Regions from separate parts of the Homo sapiens genome. Here region 2 is linked to region 1. A link means that fine-mapping ties the variant in region 1 to the expression of a gene that starts in the linked region. Tissue or cell type: left ventricle. Region 1 holds a variant in brackets; the other region holds the start of a gene. All regions are shown on one strand. Distances are from middle to middle.

Evidence for each region. PIP is the estimated chance that this variant, and not a neighbour inherited with it, causes the effect.
Region 2: it holds the start of CD1D, and the variant in region 1 is fine-mapped to the expression of CD1D in left ventricle (GTEx, PIP 0.97).

What each region holds. Positions count from the first base shown.
Region 1 is chr1:158,145,911-158,154,173 of GRCh38, forward strand. All of the region lies in intron 1 of LOC105371460 (a long non-coding RNA gene), which reads left to right. Among named protein-coding and RNA genes, the nearest start is that of LINC01704, 9.4 kb to the left of the region's middle. The variant C/A (reference allele first, on the strand shown) is at 3,888.
Region 2 is chr1:158,177,385-158,185,384 of GRCh38, forward strand. It overlaps CD1D (CD1d molecule), which reads left to right and starts at 3,511. Exons shown (of 6, transcript NM_001371762.2): 1 at 3,511-3,778; 2 at 4,071-4,337; 3 at 4,648-4,926; 4 at 5,494-5,772; 5 at 6,552-6,651; 6 at 6,745-8,000. The coding sequence starts at 3,718. The coding sequence ends at 6,766. It also overlaps the pseudogene ELL2P1. RefSeq lists a silencer at 2,520-2,569 and an enhancer at 3,982-4,041.

The DNA of each region.
Region 1 (8,263 bases):
AAAGTCTGAATCCTTCTCCTTCCCCCTTTTATCCTGACAGGAGTATGGAGCCATTGGTACTCAGTGGGGACCCAGAGACCTTGGCTCCATTTCTAACTGCACCATTCAGCCTGAGACATTTGGGTCTGCAGTGTCCTTTATCAAACACACCGCCCAGGCTGCGTAAGACTTCCCTGGCCTTCCTCCATATCCATCCTTTAGATAGGCGGTCTCCCCATCTGTGAAGACCCACCCTGTGTGTGTTGGTTCCCTCTCAGATGTTCCAGGGACTGTCTGAGGACCTCTTTCCCATTCTCTCTCAAGTGCCTCAGGGTCCATCAGAATACCCACTTCCCAAGCTCTCTGGCCTGGGAATGAGCGATTACGTAAGTGCCCAACACCCAGGGAATTGTACACTGCTCTATCCTGTTTCTACATTCCATACCCTCTCCTCGGTCTATGCAGCCAGCTCACTCCCATCTGCAGGGGAGGTGGGGAGACTATGTTTCGCTTATCATCCTTCCCTCCCCATGACTCATCCAGCTGCATGTCCCGTCAGTTCCTGAATGCCCAGGCTGACATCTCTGCCTTGGGTCAGATACAGGGGGATATCACCGTCCCACTTCACCAGAAAGCCATGGTTCTGTCAGATCAGACCCTGCTCATAGCATCAATTTTGTGAGGCAGGTTCACTAATAACCAATCCCAAGAGAAGACTCCCACTACAAGCAGGACAGCAGAGATCGACACTATGCCAATCGACAGAAATAGGAGCCCACACACTTCTGCCCACTACATCCTGGCCTGAAGGTCTACCAATGTCTGCTGGAGATACACTCACATGCAACAAATTTTGTGAGGTGGGATTATTACTTACAGGCAAGCAGCAAGGGAAAAAAGAAGCCTAGGATCCATTGTGAGGCAGCCCTCAAGGCTCAAGGAAGCTTCCTGGGCAGGATTGAGTGTTGCCCGTACATGCCCCATGTGCACCACAAGTGAGGGGCCCCAAAAGGCAGCCCACTATGAGTTATATACCTCAGGGGTCATGTGACTCACTGGACAAAGCTGGGAAGGGCATCCTGCTTCCAGGGGAGAGAGGTACAAAGCCTGGGCTGTCCCTGGCACCTCCTCTCTAACTCCAGATGTTACATTCCCTAGGAGGGACAGGAACAAGGAGGCCCAGTCTATTTCAAGCGGTTCCTTCCTTTCTCAGGATATTGTATTCCCAGCACATTTTACAGTTTTTCTTGAGAATAACAAGCAAGAAAGAGAGGAGAACTGGGTTTGTCCAAGGCCACTTGGAATATATTGTCCTGCGCTAACATCCTAGAGGTGCCATTAAAAGTGGAAAGTTAGTTCTGCTACCCCGAACCATACTACAGCTCCCCATCCTTAACATCTCCTAGATTTAAAACCATCCCCTAGAAGATAATATGGAGGTAAAAAGAGAAAGGGCACTGATGGAGTCGTGTGTACCCAGCCACGGAAATGAGTGATGTGACTTTTGTTCTCACCTCCTCCAAGTGAGGGGTCTCCAAGAGAATCACTCATAGAAATTGGTGGGCTGGCAAGAAGAGACTGTTATCTCAATCTCTGGTTGGATATCTGCTGATGAGCTTGTTGATCTGTACTCTGTGATCACTAGAGCAGGGAGAGAAGGATGACAGGGAAAGAGCTATCACTCTTACCACTTGGTTTAGCAAGGATGTGTGAGTCAAATGAACAGTGTGGAAATCGGTGTGAGTTTACTGTGAGTTAAATGAACAGTGTGAAACTCAACAGGGTGTGGGCCATCTTGCCGGTTCTCCTTCCAAGAGAATTGGCTGCCAAGCCAGGGAACCTAGTTATACCACCAAGAGCAGGGCTGAGGGGTTGTGGGAAGTAGTTATGAGGCAGGAGAATAGGGTCTGAAGGCAAGGAACCTAAGGCGGTTTCATGCCGACTTCCTTAGAACTAAATTGAAAGGAAAGCCTTAACTTTCCACGCCTAAGTAACAAAAGGACCAGAAGCTGCTCCCTTTAAAAACTCCTACCTTTTCTGCAGGGCAGATGGGAAACTGAAAGTACCTCTGATTGGTTGCTTTTTGCAATCAATCAGATGTTTGCATAGGAGTGTAACTTTGTAACTTCACTTCAGCCTCTGATTGGTTGTTTTCCACAACCAATCAGACTGATTGTGGGCCACCACTTCATTTACATGGGGTGAACACCAAGTGGCCGATGGGAAACCTCTAGGGGGTATTTGGACCCAAGAAAATGCTGCATCAGAGCCCTTGAGCCTCTGCTCAGCCTGCTCCCACACTGTGGAGTGTACTTCCACTTTCAATAAATCTCTGCTTTTGTTCCTTCTTTCCTTGCTTTGCTGTGCGTTTTGTCCAATCCTTTGTTGAAAACGCCAAAAATCTGGACAACTTGCAGTCAAGACCCTCTACCAGTAACAGTTTTAAGCTGCAGCAGATCTCCCATCAAGGAATTGTGTACTGGGGAGAGCTCCCAGGGAACTAACCCATGTGCCTATTAAGAACTAGCATTTGGGTACCTTCCAAATGGAAGGTATTCGTGACCAATCAGCCTTCAACTGAGAGGTGGAGAGAACCAACAGACAATTGCAATTAAATGCCCAGTTAGGCAAAATGACTTTTGGCCCTCACTTCCCAGCCCTCCCTGATTTTTCCTCAGGGTCCCAACACAATAAGTATTTTTGGGAAAGGCAGACTTCTATTAAAGGACAGAATACACCACTTCCCCAAACCAAGCTCCACTGCTCAAGTCTGGCTGGTGCTGAGGGGAAGGAAGGAAGTTTTGCAAATCTCACTGCAAAACTTGAAATGAGATGTAAGATTTTAAGTGGACTGCATTAGACTGGACTTCTAATAATTAAGTAAACAGAAAACTACAGAATCCGTCAGGGCTGGAAGAACTGAGAGTATGGTTGAAGGCACTGGTTAAAACCTCATTGAGAATATGTTCAGCAGAGTTCAGAATGTTCATTAAGTTGTTTCTACATGCAAAAAGTCTTTGAAGTAAGAGGCAGCCTGGTTTGTTAAACTGATAGTTTCTGAAGATGACTGGAACACAGAGGGAGAGAAGGAAGTCTGGAAGACTAGGAAGAAGTCAGGCAATGACAGCCTTGTTAAGGTGTTCGGACTTTATTCTGTGGGCCAAGAGAAGCCATGAAATATTTTAATGATCAAATTTGCATCTTAGAATGATCCCACAGCCGGTAGGGTAGGGACTAGAAACAGGGAAATCATTTAAGCAAGAGAAAATGGTATGGCAGTGGAGATAGAGAAATGGCAGTGTGGATGGAGAAAAGTGGGAAGATATGTAGGTGGAGAACTGTCAGGAATTGCTTACTGATGAGACGTGGGCTCGAGGGAAAGGCGAAGGAAGCTTCTCTTTCCCTACCTCTCCTTCCAACTGGCCCTAGAATTGCTGTCCGGTTTCCAGTCCCTGCTCACACTTCATTCAATGGTGGAGGAATGCCCAGCTGCTGTCCCATGGGGGTCTGGAGGTCTATGGGCACCAACAGTACCATTTCCACAGTCTTTCCAGCAGCGATAGGAGGCAGGCTGTGCCTCGAGTGTCATCTGGTTTGGAGGCCGAGGTCCCCACGTTTAAGTGACTTGCTTAAGACCCCACAGCTGGTTTGTTACAGAGTCCAAATTTCACTCTCAGCTTTAGGGCTCTTTTAATAACACTTCATTGCTGCATCCCGAAGTTAAGCAAAAGAAACAAAATAAAGATAAAAAGGAAAGCACTGTTCCAAATGCATAGCCTGGAGCATAGCAAAATATGTAATTAAAGACCCGCGCCTGATGTCGGGGAGCCTCGATGTGCGCATGCGTCCCAGGCTGAGGCCGCCGGAAGAGGTCAGGCGGTTCGCCGGCGTTCCAAGTTGGAGGCCAG[C/A]CCAGGACAAGGAGGGGAAGTGCGCATGTGCTCCAAATCATTTCCCGGCCGAGGAAATTGGCTAAGACCGTTAGCTGGTGGGAATCGGAAGAGAATGGGTCACTCGGGCTGTGCGCGGGGCACTATGGGTGTTGTAGTTTTTGCAGGGTGGTAGCAGTTTGTTCTTTTAAGAGGAAATCTTCGCGACTAGTTGAGTCACGAAGATTTTTGAGAAAATCATTTGAGAAAAAGTTGCTTGCACGGGGGAATCGAGTGTGGACTAGCTACGTGGGTGTGGCTTAATTCTGCTGTTTCTCTTTTGGATGAGACATTGAATGAAGTGTGAGCAGGGACTGGAAACCCGACAGCATTTCTAGGGTCACTTTCTGCCTTGCCTTCGTTAACGCTCAGTTCCTCCCACATCTTTGGCTTCCCTCTATAATACCTACAGATTCCCTTTATTATTTCATACTAGCTCCGACTAGTCTTAAATACTCTGTTTCTGTCCTCTTTCTCACACGCAGTTCCTGGAATCTTCATCCTTCTCTCCCTCGTGAGTACCTTTTCTTGTTTTTGTCCTAGACAGGGCTCCTCTAACACTCTGCCCTTGCCCCAGGAGTCACGCCAAGGACCCTAAGAAAAGGATCCCACAGTAAATGTTTTTAGGCACGAGCAGATCGGAACCATCCTACTTCATTTCACTTATTTCTGCTTCTCTTCCGATCCTTGTCTCTTCTGGTTCCACCTCTATGTTCTACCTCTCTGTAGCCTCTTTGCTTCTTTGAAGTCTGGTGGCCTTAGATAGGAACTCTCAGACCTGCCATTTTGTCTCTGGCCTCCACAGCCTGTCATTTAACAGAGGACCTAACCCTGGGTTGACTTCTAGGTCAGAGAGTGGGAAGTGAAACAAATTGGAAAAAGAGAGGAAACTGATGTATTAGGTTTGAAGAAGTCGTCAGGGAGATATATGGTGAAAGAGGGGGAAGAGAGAGTAAAACTTCTTGTGCCCTCAAAAACTCTTTAGTGCTGGCTGTGTGCAGAGGTCTGTGAGCTCTGTGGTGGGGATGCATTAGTTAGAATCTTAGATGCTGAGAGTTCAGTTGTAGAGAACACAGATATACAGGTGAGCAACATTGCAGAATGACATCGATTTATCTTTTACCTTTCTGTGTGTGCTTCTGCTCCTTCCCATACCTACCCCAGCTAATTCCAAAGTATTTTGCTTCTTCACATCTTTCTCTGTTATACACTCCACTTCCCATTCTTAAGGCCCCCTTCCCTTTGTTCTGACCCAAGCTATTTCTTTTGTATATCATGTTAAAGTCATATTTTAGTCTAGCTCTCAAAAACACCATGGTTGTATTTTCAAAGAACTTCCAGAATCTGCTTATTATCTCTTTCAAAGCATGAAATATGCAATAAAACCAATACTATTTTTCATTTAAAAAATATGTAGAGTAATAGTTGAAAGTGGAGAGTGATAATGGATGAATGAAAGTTGACCAGAACCCAGGAGTTTGAGACCAGCCTGAGCAAAATGGTGAAACCCCATCTATACAAAAAATACAAAAACTAGCCAGACATGGTGGTGACTGGACCTGTGGTCCCAGCTACTCGGGAGGCTGAGGTGGGAGGATCGCTTGAGTCTGGGAGGTCAAGACTGCAGAGAGAGCCATAATCATGCTACTGCACTCCAGCCTTGGCGACAGAGTGAGATACTGTCTCCAAAAAAAAAAAAAAAAAGAGAAAGAAGGAAGGAAGGAAGTTGGAAATTTGGCTATACCTCATTTTGGTTTTCTTCCTTTGTTTTGAATTCTCAAAAATGTTGGATTCCCATAATACTAATATACATTTGAGACATGTATTTTTTTTTCTTTTTTTACTCAGGTTTGGTTAGCAGGACATTTCCAGGGTATCACAGTATACTGAAATATTACAAGAAAGGTCCATAAATGCTGTACATCCTCCAATCTGTAAATTGTTCAGCAACAGGAAGACAGTGAAAGATAGACGGCAACTCACCAAGAAGAATATGTCAGTGATTTCCCCTAAGATGTGATTGTTCCACAGAAGCATTCTTCAGGGGAGTGGGTCTGTGCAGGCAGTAAGTGGGAAGATCTTCACTTAGTGTGCCGTCCTTCCTCAGCTTCAAGAGAATCCACTTGAAGGAGAAGTCCCATATATTATGTCCAATGCTGTGAAGCATCTTTTGGTGCCTTCATTTCATCCAACACCAAAATCCTCAATGGTGAAGAAATCTATAAATGTAGTATTGACCTTGAGAAAAAGTTGAGCACAACTGCGCCCTCATGCAGCACTGGAGAAACCTATACATGTAAAGAAGGACAGTTTTCATTTGACTCTCAGAGCTGATTGTATATTGGCAAACATATTTTTCTGCCATTGCTTAGGGATAAGAAATCTAACAGAAACATCAAATAAAATACTGAAGAGAGAAAAAAAACACTTTTTTTTTTAAGGCCTTCTAGAAGGGGCAATTGAGCATACTCCACATATGTTGGCTAGTTTACCAGGAAAAAATAAAAGGAGCCAATTTGAGCAGTGGACTCTAGGTGACAGTTCTGTTTGGGCTGATGAAATCGATCAGCCATGAATACTCTGTCAATGTCTCCCACTACGATTCTCTTGCCATTTTTTTTTTTACCCAACCTCCACTATTTGGCCTAAACATCACCTCTGTCAGTCTCAGAGTTACACTCTCCCTCCTGTATTCTCAAATTTTCACATAGTTGTATGTGTGATTATAACATCATGGTTTCAGCTGGTTTCATCCTCTGGTCCGTTTACCCACCTCTTTTGATCATCGCCTTTTGTCTGGGCCATAAGTGAAAGTAAAAAGGACATTAGGTGAGTAGGAAAGGAGATTTGTTCACAATGCCTTTCACCTTGGCATTTGCCTTGGCTTCTGACCTTCTTTACTCTGGGATGCTTTTCGTGACCTCTCACACCCCATGATGGGTTAAGGGGTCTTTCCTCAAGTTGGTTTGCCCCGACTTTAGTACTTAATTATGCTGTATTATGTCAGGCTTAGGTGTATATCCACCTTACTAGTTGTAATCTCCATGCAGACATGGAATATGTCCTATTCAGCATTGTGTTCCTAGTACCTGGCATACAGTCAGTATGAGTAGATGAGTGAATGTAAAGCTCTTGTTTTTGCTAAACCCCTTTAAACCTTCTTGCTTCCCTCTTCCCCGTCATTTTTTCACAGCTCTGTGCTTCCCGTCCCCCATTAGTCCCCATCATTTTTCCACAGATCTGAGTTTTTCCCCCACCATTTATGTTCATACATTTTGCTTAGTTAAACCCAGCTTGCTCGTCACTGGCTACATGGAAAGGTGCTGGATATGGATGATTGCTTTTAGTATCAAAATCTGTCGGAAGTGTCTATATATTTTTCTTCCAGCCTTAGGCTTATTTTATGAAATTAAAATAAATATGAAGACTCTGTAGGTCTTGAGTTAGTATCACTTGAAAATGGAATTTCTCTGAATATTCTCTGAATAGAATAGTTTCTTGCTTGTTGCTGATATTGAATTGTAGGCCATTTTTGTAAGGATGATCAACTCTGAGTCATCCTTACATCCTGTGAAGAGAATAGACTTGTGAAGAGGCTCATCTTTCTTTAGTTTGGGAGTAGTGTTTTCATTTGATTATATTTAATGTTGGGAATTCATACTACTTCCTAGCATATCACGACACCACAATGTGAAGTCCCCATTTAGGAGGCACTAGAAATCTTCCTCATTTCACTGCCTGTTCAATTTCTGCCACCCTTTAAGCTATATTAATTATGACATGTCTTCCCGGATAGATGTAGGTGCCCTGGAGCAAGGCACACCAAAAAACCACTCCTTGTTCCTCTGCCTAATTCATTGTAAAAGCATATTCTTTATGATGGCCTCAATATTGCCAGTATTTTCTCTTTTCATATTAATGTCTGAAAAATGGCTCTGGGATTCAGAAGCTGGAATTTAGATTCTTTGTCACTAAATAGTTTCCCTCTGTTCATTTCATTTTCACTTGAATTCCCTCATATTGGGAATTCCCTGGGGTTACACACCAACCTTCCTTTGACTCTCCCCAGGTGGCTCATACAACTCTATTTGAGGAAAAGATTGTTGGGAAAAGAAACTGTACAGCAGAAGGGGAAGCAAGAAAGGGAAGAACAATTTTACTCAAAATGGTACTTCTGAGTTTAGTTTTCTTTTCAGAGATGCTATGAAGTCAAGCGTACATTTTTCCTTTTGCCAGTTATTCATTTGTTTTATCCTCTTTCTTTTGGGTCTAAGGATTCTTTCTAGGCCCAGTGAAAACTTTTCCTAGATGATGTGTCCATTTGAAACATAGCATGTGCAGAGAATCCTGATAAGGTG
Region 2 (8,000 bases), 31 kb after region 1:
TTGTTGCACACACTGTAATTTTATCTTGTATAAATCCCAGGCAATTGAGCTGGGAGGCTCCAGAGCTGGAGAATGTTTGCTGGACGCAGTCAAAGCTGCCCTGAGGGTTGTCTTTGCCCACATTTGACAAATAAAAGTTAAAGTTATGAACTTCATTGAGGGGATCATTTTTGGGAATTTTGACAAGCTCCTGGAGTCTTTGGAACTGAATTGAAGGTCGAAAAGAAATTAAATTCTTGTGGCTCTGGTAAGTCTGGAGCGCCTGGATCGCCGACTCGGTGAGCTTCACATGCAGTACGGTGATGTTGTCCTGCCCCAGCCGTCCGCACGAGAGCCCATAGCGCTGCCCCGCGACCCCCCCACCCCCGACATCTTAAACTCCCAGAGGTGCCGCCGCCGCCAGTCCAGCTCCAGCCTCCACTGCGGCCGCAGCTGCTTGGGCTTCTGCAGCCGCCGCCACTGCTAGGGCCATCCCGCTGCTGGCGTACTGTCATATACTGCGCGGAGCCAGACCTCGGACTGCCATCGCCGCCACCTGCCCCACCCTCTGGCCCCGCGCCCCGCCCCAGGCTAGTCTCATTGGTCTAGTTCCCTCAGAACCGTCCTCATCGGCCGCCCTCCACTTTCACGGGGGCGGGGCCCAAAGTCGCTGGAGTTTTGCTCCTGGGACTGGACGTCCGAGAGGTAAGAGAGCTATCACAAGGTTTTCTAATCCTTATGTTTCTTTTAGTGGATCTCCAGGTTACTGTGGTTTGTATTATCAGGCTACTTACAAAAATGAATACCTCTTTAAATCAGGCCATTTTACAGCAAACTACGGTCCTTGATCACCATTATGCTCTGAATAAAGACTATGAGCAATTGCACTTGAATGCTGTTAAACTTTATTGACTGAACTTTGAATTGTTTGATTTTGATCAGGTTGGCTTGTGGAAAGTGCTATTAAGAAGAGTTCTTTAGTTCGTTGGTATTATCCTCCTGATAGCTATTATAAAAGTTTCCCTGATGTGTCCTCTCAAGAATCTTAAATTCTCATATGCAGCTATCCTTTGTACATTAAATGGTCTCCTTATGGTTAGGATAACAAAAACATGAAGAAAGCATATAAGATTCCAACTAATTTGACGTTGTGAATTGTGAATTCTGAACTGAAACCAAGTAAGTCCCTTATGATCAGGCTCCAAGGTTTTGGTCAGCCTCTCAAAATTGAGAGGCTGAAACCCTTTGACCAAAATTAACACATTTGCCCCTTCCCTCCAGCTCCTGGAAACCACTACCCTAACTCTGTTTCCATAAAATAGTAAACTATTTTAGAGTCCACATATAAGTGAGATCATGTAGTACCCACCGTGGGCTTATTTTAAGGCTCTGAGTAAATCACCATCTCTCTGTGCTAGGGTATTCTGAGTCAGTCTTGTTATAAAATATTTTGTTTAGGTAACATATTGCAAAACGTTTCATAATTCAATGGTTCCTTTCCCAGAAAAAAAGCAGTGAAAGTTCCAATAGCCAAAAAGTGTCTAACTCAACTGACCTTTGGGAAAAAATATCCGTATAATTCCAGATAGTCCTAACTTCTGAAGGTAATATAGCCTGGCCTCTGTTGATAAACAAACAAAAACAAAAAAACCACACACACACACACAAACCAGCTTCTTGTCTTTAAGTGTGCAAGAATGTTAGCACTTAAAATTTTTAAGATACACAAAAACTAAACAGAACTGTTCAAGTTTTTAAAGGGAGCTTGGAAATTTGAAGAAAGTAAAGTTAAAAATATTGCCCCATGAGTCATATAATTATTTTTCTTTTTATTTCTCATAGCTTCCCTCCTATCCATTATTTAGGCAATTTTGTATCCAAATTTAATAATTTAACACCTTATTTGTTACAAGAACACGTTACTATGTTATTTTAAGCTTTTTTGGGCAAATTACACATAATTAGATAGGCTGGGTTAGGGCTGTCTACAAGATCCCAGCCTAGAGTGTGGTGCAGTAGCCTATTTTCTCTAGGACTCTTGCTGCAACAGGATATGGGAGAAGGGAAACATTAACGTTAGCAGAATGGGAGGAATCAGATTATGGAGACATGATCCTTGCCTTCTGGCACCTCTCCAGCTGATTTAGAAGAGGACACAGAGGGAGACAGACATATGGCCATTTCTATAATTATAAACTCTGCTACATGCTGAGAGGATGGCTTCTCAAAGCCAGTTAGTGTACAAGCAGTGGAGGTTGGGACTGCCCTACTTCTCCTGCCTAGGGTCACACAGTCTGGCAGATCTGGAAAGACTTCCCTGAGAAAGTGACCTTGGAACTGATACCTTAGTGGAAATAACTAGGCATTGGGAGGGGGTGAGGTGAGGAGAAGGTCAAGAGCTTTCATGTAGAGGGAACTTTGTGCAGAGACCTTAGTCAGGAAGAGGTTTTGCATAGTGGAGGAACTGAAAGCTAACAGCCAGGCTACAGTACAGAGCAAATGATGCTGGGGTGTGAGGTGATGTCAAAAGGTAGACACCAGGGCTAGAGGGCGCATAATCTTGCAGGCCGTGCTAATGATTTTGTTTTCTACCCAAGAATGCTACTTCAGGAGATCAGTCAAAAGGTTAGGGTGATGGTGACGGTGGAAATATAGAAAAAGGAATTTATTCAAGAGGTATTCAAAAAGAAGTGAAATAGAGATGAGTTGGAGATAGATTGGATAAAAAGAGTGAGGGAGAGGGAGGTGTCAGGCTGCAGCCCAGGTTCTGAGTTGCCAAAGAGGAGTCTTTTCCTCCAGGTGAGCTAAGGCTTAGAACCACGATTTTTGGTCACTTTTTCTTATTTTCAGTGTGAGAAGTGGCGAGTTGGCTGTCCAGGTACACACTGTCATCTTACACTTACTGTTTAAGACAGAGGCGCATATTTGGAAAGTGAATGAGTCAGGAGCCAGAGGAGAAGGTATGCCGGCAGAGCCTAGGGCGGAGAGGAGGAAGAGAGTCTGGGGGCGCGTCCCCAAAAAGGAGACAGGGAAGACAGAGCAGAGGCCGGGGAGGGGAGAGCAAGGACCATGACAGGAGGAAAGAGAGGCTAGGGAACACTGAGGTGGAGGAATCCTGGGATATGACAGTTGTAAAGAATTGTAGCCAACCTAATCCAGTTCTCTCAATGTGCAACTGAGGAAATTAATTTTCATGCGTTTACTTTATTGTAAATGTGGTACTTGCACTTGAGAAATTTTGGAAAACATAAAGATGTAAAGCAAATTAAGATCACTCATAGTCTTTCCACCTAGAGACATGTACTGCTAAAGCAAGGACTTTGATCCTTTTTTCCCTTTGCATTTTTACCATGGTTGGAATTGTAACACAGACACAACCTTATGTCCTGCTTCCAAAACATAAATAATGGTTGTAAAGCGTCCCACACGTTGACCCAAAGTCTCCTTTGAAACAGGAAATTGAGACACGCCGGTTGTGAAACCTACTGAAGTGAGCGGCGGCGCCAGGATTCCTGGGACCCCGACCTCTTTGCAGCTCGCACAGCTAAGGGCGAGGGCGCCCTTCGGCAGAAGCAGCAAACCGCCGGCAAGCCCAGCGAGGAGGGCTGCCGGGGTCTGGGCTTGGGAATTGGCTGGCACCCAGCGGAAAGGGACGTGAGCTGAGCGGCGGGGGAGAAGAGTGCGCAGGTCAGAGGGCGGCGCGCAGCGGCGCTCCGCGAGGTCCCCACGCCGGGCGATATGGGGTGCCTGCTGTTTCTGCTGCTCTGGGCGCTCCTCCAGGCTTGGGGAAGCGCTGAAGGTGGGTGGAACGAGGGCGCTTGAGTGCACTCGCGGGAGGGCGGAGAGAGGGAGCTGGGTAGGGACGGGGAGGGCAACGCCTGATGGGGACTGGTGAGACCCGGGACGCACTGGCGCGATCTAGGTAGAAAACTCGCTGCTCCCTGGCTCCGGGGAGAGGCAGCGCGGCACAGAGTTCGCTGGCATCAGCCGCCTCCTGAAGCTCATCTCCTCTTGTTTCTTTCTTCCTTCTCTTTATGCTGGCTGCTCTCCCGGCCACTTGCTACACGCCTCCAATCTTCATTCTCTCCCAGTCCCGCAAAGGCTTTTCCCCCTCCGCTGCCTCCAGATCTCGTCCTTCGCCAATAGCAGCTGGACGCGCACCGACGGCTTGGCGTGGCTGGGGGAGCTGCAGACGCACAGCTGGAGCAACGACTCGGACACCGTCCGCTCTCTGAAGCCTTGGTCCCAGGGCACGTTCAGCGACCAGCAGTGGGAGACGCTGCAGCATATATTTCGGGTTTATCGAAGCAGCTTCACCAGGGACGTGAAGGAATTCGCCAAAATGCTACGCTTATCCTGTGAGCTGAGGGATAGGATCCTGGGCCGGTACCCAAGGGGAGAGAATGGCCACAGAAACTCAACTGGGAGACTGTGGCACCACCTGATGAGATTCTCTGCTCTGTCCACCCTCTTCTGATTTCCCTTCTACCTGGAGATGTCCCAGGCTTTGACTCCTCAAAGTGTCCCTCGTTCCTGCCTACTCCAGGTCACTTACTTTCCTTTCCCTGAAGTCTGGGTCCCCATTATAACCTGCACATCAATTTCTTCTCTTTCATCTCTCCCAGTCTTTTAAACCCTTCTTTGATCTTTCTCCATTCCTCTCCACAGATCCCTTGGAGCTCCAGGTGTCCGCTGGCTGTGAGGTGCACCCTGGGAACGCCTCAAATAACTTCTTCCATGTAGCATTTCAAGGAAAAGATATCCTGAGTTTCCAAGGAACTTCTTGGGAGCCAACCCAAGAGGCCCCACTTTGGGTAAACTTGGCCATTCAAGTGCTCAACCAGGACAAGTGGACGAGGGAAACAGTGCAGTGGCTCCTTAATGGCACCTGCCCCCAATTTGTCAGTGGCCTCCTTGAGTCAGGGAAGTCGGAACTGAAGAAGCAAGGTCAGCCTGCCTTCCTTACTCCCTGCATTCCACTTCAGGGCTCCAAACGGGCTTTTCCATTCCAGGGTTCTCATCCCTTTGAGCATTCAAAGAAGAGGAAGGCCCAGGAGGGGCTGGATAAGGGGTGAGGGTATTTATTCATTTCACAGACATCAACTGAGCACCTCTTGGGTTCTATGAATTCAATTAATGAACAACTGGGGGTGAAAGGTGTCAGGCAGTTAGTTAGGATCCCTGCTTGGTAGGGGGATGTTAATTAATGCAATGCTTGAAATAGGCTACATATGTTACTTCAAAACAAAGGGTGTTATAGGGGAACAGACAAGGGGCATTCATAGGAGGCTGGGACCAGAGAAGAAGAAGGAGTATCAGGGCAGGCTCCCTGAAGAAGGTGGGACAAATGGATTGAAAGTTGTGGGAGACTTCATTTCCAGAAGTGAACATGTCAGGGGCATACAGGAAGGAGGGAAATAAAGACCTGAAAGTCAAAAAGGATGATATGAGGCCTGGAGCCTCTAATGCAGAGTTTTCACTTTAAGATCCCCCCCATTCCCTTGTTGGATACAGTGAAGCCCAAGGCCTGGCTGTCCCGTGGCCCCAGTCCTGGCCCTGGCCGTCTGCTGCTGGTGTGCCATGTCTCAGGATTCTACCCAAAGCCTGTATGGGTGAAGTGGATGCGGGGTGAGCAGGAGCAGCAGGGCACTCAGCCAGGGGACATCCTGCCCAATGCTGACGAGACATGGTATCTCCGAGCAACCCTGGATGTGGTGGCTGGGGAGGCAGCTGGCCTGTCCTGTCGGGTGAAGCACAGCAGTCTAGAGGGCCAGGACATCGTCCTCTACTGGGGTGAGAAAAAGCTGGGCCCAAGCTGGAAATGGCAGGAGGTGGTCCTCAGGCATAGAGGGAGGCACTGGGGTGGGATGTGGCTTGATATACCCAGGTTAGAGGAGTTTCAGAGATGAGGCCCCCAGTAAAAGGATAGAGAGAGGGGTTCCAGACACAGGAAGGAGGGAAATAAAGACCTGAAAGTCTAAAAGGATTGAAATAGTGCTCTCTATATACAAGAAGAAACAAGACTACAAAACTCAGGGATCCAGAAGTAGGCAGCGAATAAACAATCCCAGGACGATTCATTCCTTGGCTTAAAGGGAGCCAGGCCTTTGGGAAGGCAGGTTAGCAAAGATAGCTTGGTTGGTTGAGTGCTCCCTGTGTAGGGGCCAATGAATCTGCATATAATATCTCATCTCATCATTCACAGTTTTCTTTGAAGCAAGTACTGCTCTTTTCGTTATATAGATGAGGAAATGAAGGCGGAGATAGGTTAACTGCCCGGAGCCACATAGAAAGTGGACGGGCTGGATTTAGATTCAGGTCTGCCTTGCTACAAAGCTGTTGCCCTTTCCCTCTATGCTACACTAGCAAATGTCAAAGTGGGCTGAATTTGGGATGCCCAGGCACTGAAAACAAGATGGGGAATCTAAACTTATGAGGAATAGAAATTGGGGTTTTAAGTGGAGGAGGAAATAAGAAGCACCTGGTACCCTCACACATGCCTAGACCAGGGGATTGGATATATGTAGAGAGGGGTCCTGTGCTGAGAGACAGCCTATGTTCCTCCAGAGCAGGTGGGAGCTACACCTCCATGGGCTTGATTGCCTTGGCAGTCCTGGCGTGCTTGCTGTTCCTCCTCATTGTGGGCTTTACCTCCCGGTTTAAGAGGCAAACGTAAGTCTCCCCTTTCCCTTTCCTCAACCTCTCTCCCCTTCATTCCTGGCTTCCCTTTTCCTTAATGGTCTTTCCCTTTCTATTCTCTCACAGTTCCTATCAGGGCGTCCTGTGACTCGCCTTGCCACATCTGTGTCTCTGGAACCCAGGACCTCTGGACCTCAGGTTCCTAAGACTTCAGTCCTGGTCTGCTCAGGAATTGAAGATGTAAGGAATTGAAGATAGGAGAGATACCTTGAAAAAGTAGAGAACAGTCATGAGGCAGCTTTCATCACACCCTTTTAACATTTATCTAAAAGAATTTAAATTCTTTTTCAAAAATTACACTACAAGTTTATAAGCCCAAATGGCTCTGTGAAATCAGAAGTGCAAAGGTGTGCAAACTTGTATCTGAAGACCTACCAGGGACAAGCAGGTAAGAGCTGATGTGAGTGTGTGTGATGGGATCTGTAAGGAACTGGAACACACATGTCCTATCCAAAGGAATCAGCTGCAGCTGCTTGTTGTCAAGTATAAAGTCAGGACCTGGCTTGGCTTTAACCGTTTTTCAAGAAAACTGGAAATCTGGATTTTCAGCGAACATGCCTGATTTTAAAAGGTTGACTCAAGTTTTTACAAAATACTATGTGGGACACCTCAAATACATACCTACTGACTGATGACAAACCCAGGAGTTTGTGTGTCTTTTATAAAAAGTTTGCCCTGGATGTCATATTGGCAGTTGGAGGACACAGTTTCTATTGTAAATTTGGATTTACGACTGAAGAAGGACATTTTCTCTTTAAAAGAAAGTTAGGTTATAAGAAACAGAGGCGTCTCACATTTTTACTTGGTGTAATTAATAAACGAAGATAAATCATAGTGTATGTGTATTATGTTGAAAAAAACTACTCTGAGTAAGGATATTTCTCTCAAATGGTCATCACTTTTTTTCCTTGGAGGAAGATTGTCATGAAGGCATCCCTTCCTTCCCAAAACGACAACGGCAACAACAACAGTCTCCTTTACTTACAGCTATTAAAAGAGACAATGTAGGGAAAGGGCCAACACCACTTGGGCAAGCATGAGCTGCAGCGATGATGGTGATGGTAGCCCAGCCATGCTGTGTTCTTATCTTAGAGAGGACAGAGCAGGAAACTTACAGGGGTAGCAGACCTTTCTGATGCCAAAGAAATAAGGAGGCCAAAATCATGTTTGCCTAGCTGGGAGGTAAATCTCTTGGCAGTCAGGGTCCCTGAACACCCAGAAAAAATAAGTGAGACTTAACGGTTGGAGAGTGTTTGCTTGAGAAAAGTAACATTTCACACTCTCTATACTAGACTTGCACATATGAATTTAGGATGTGCGTG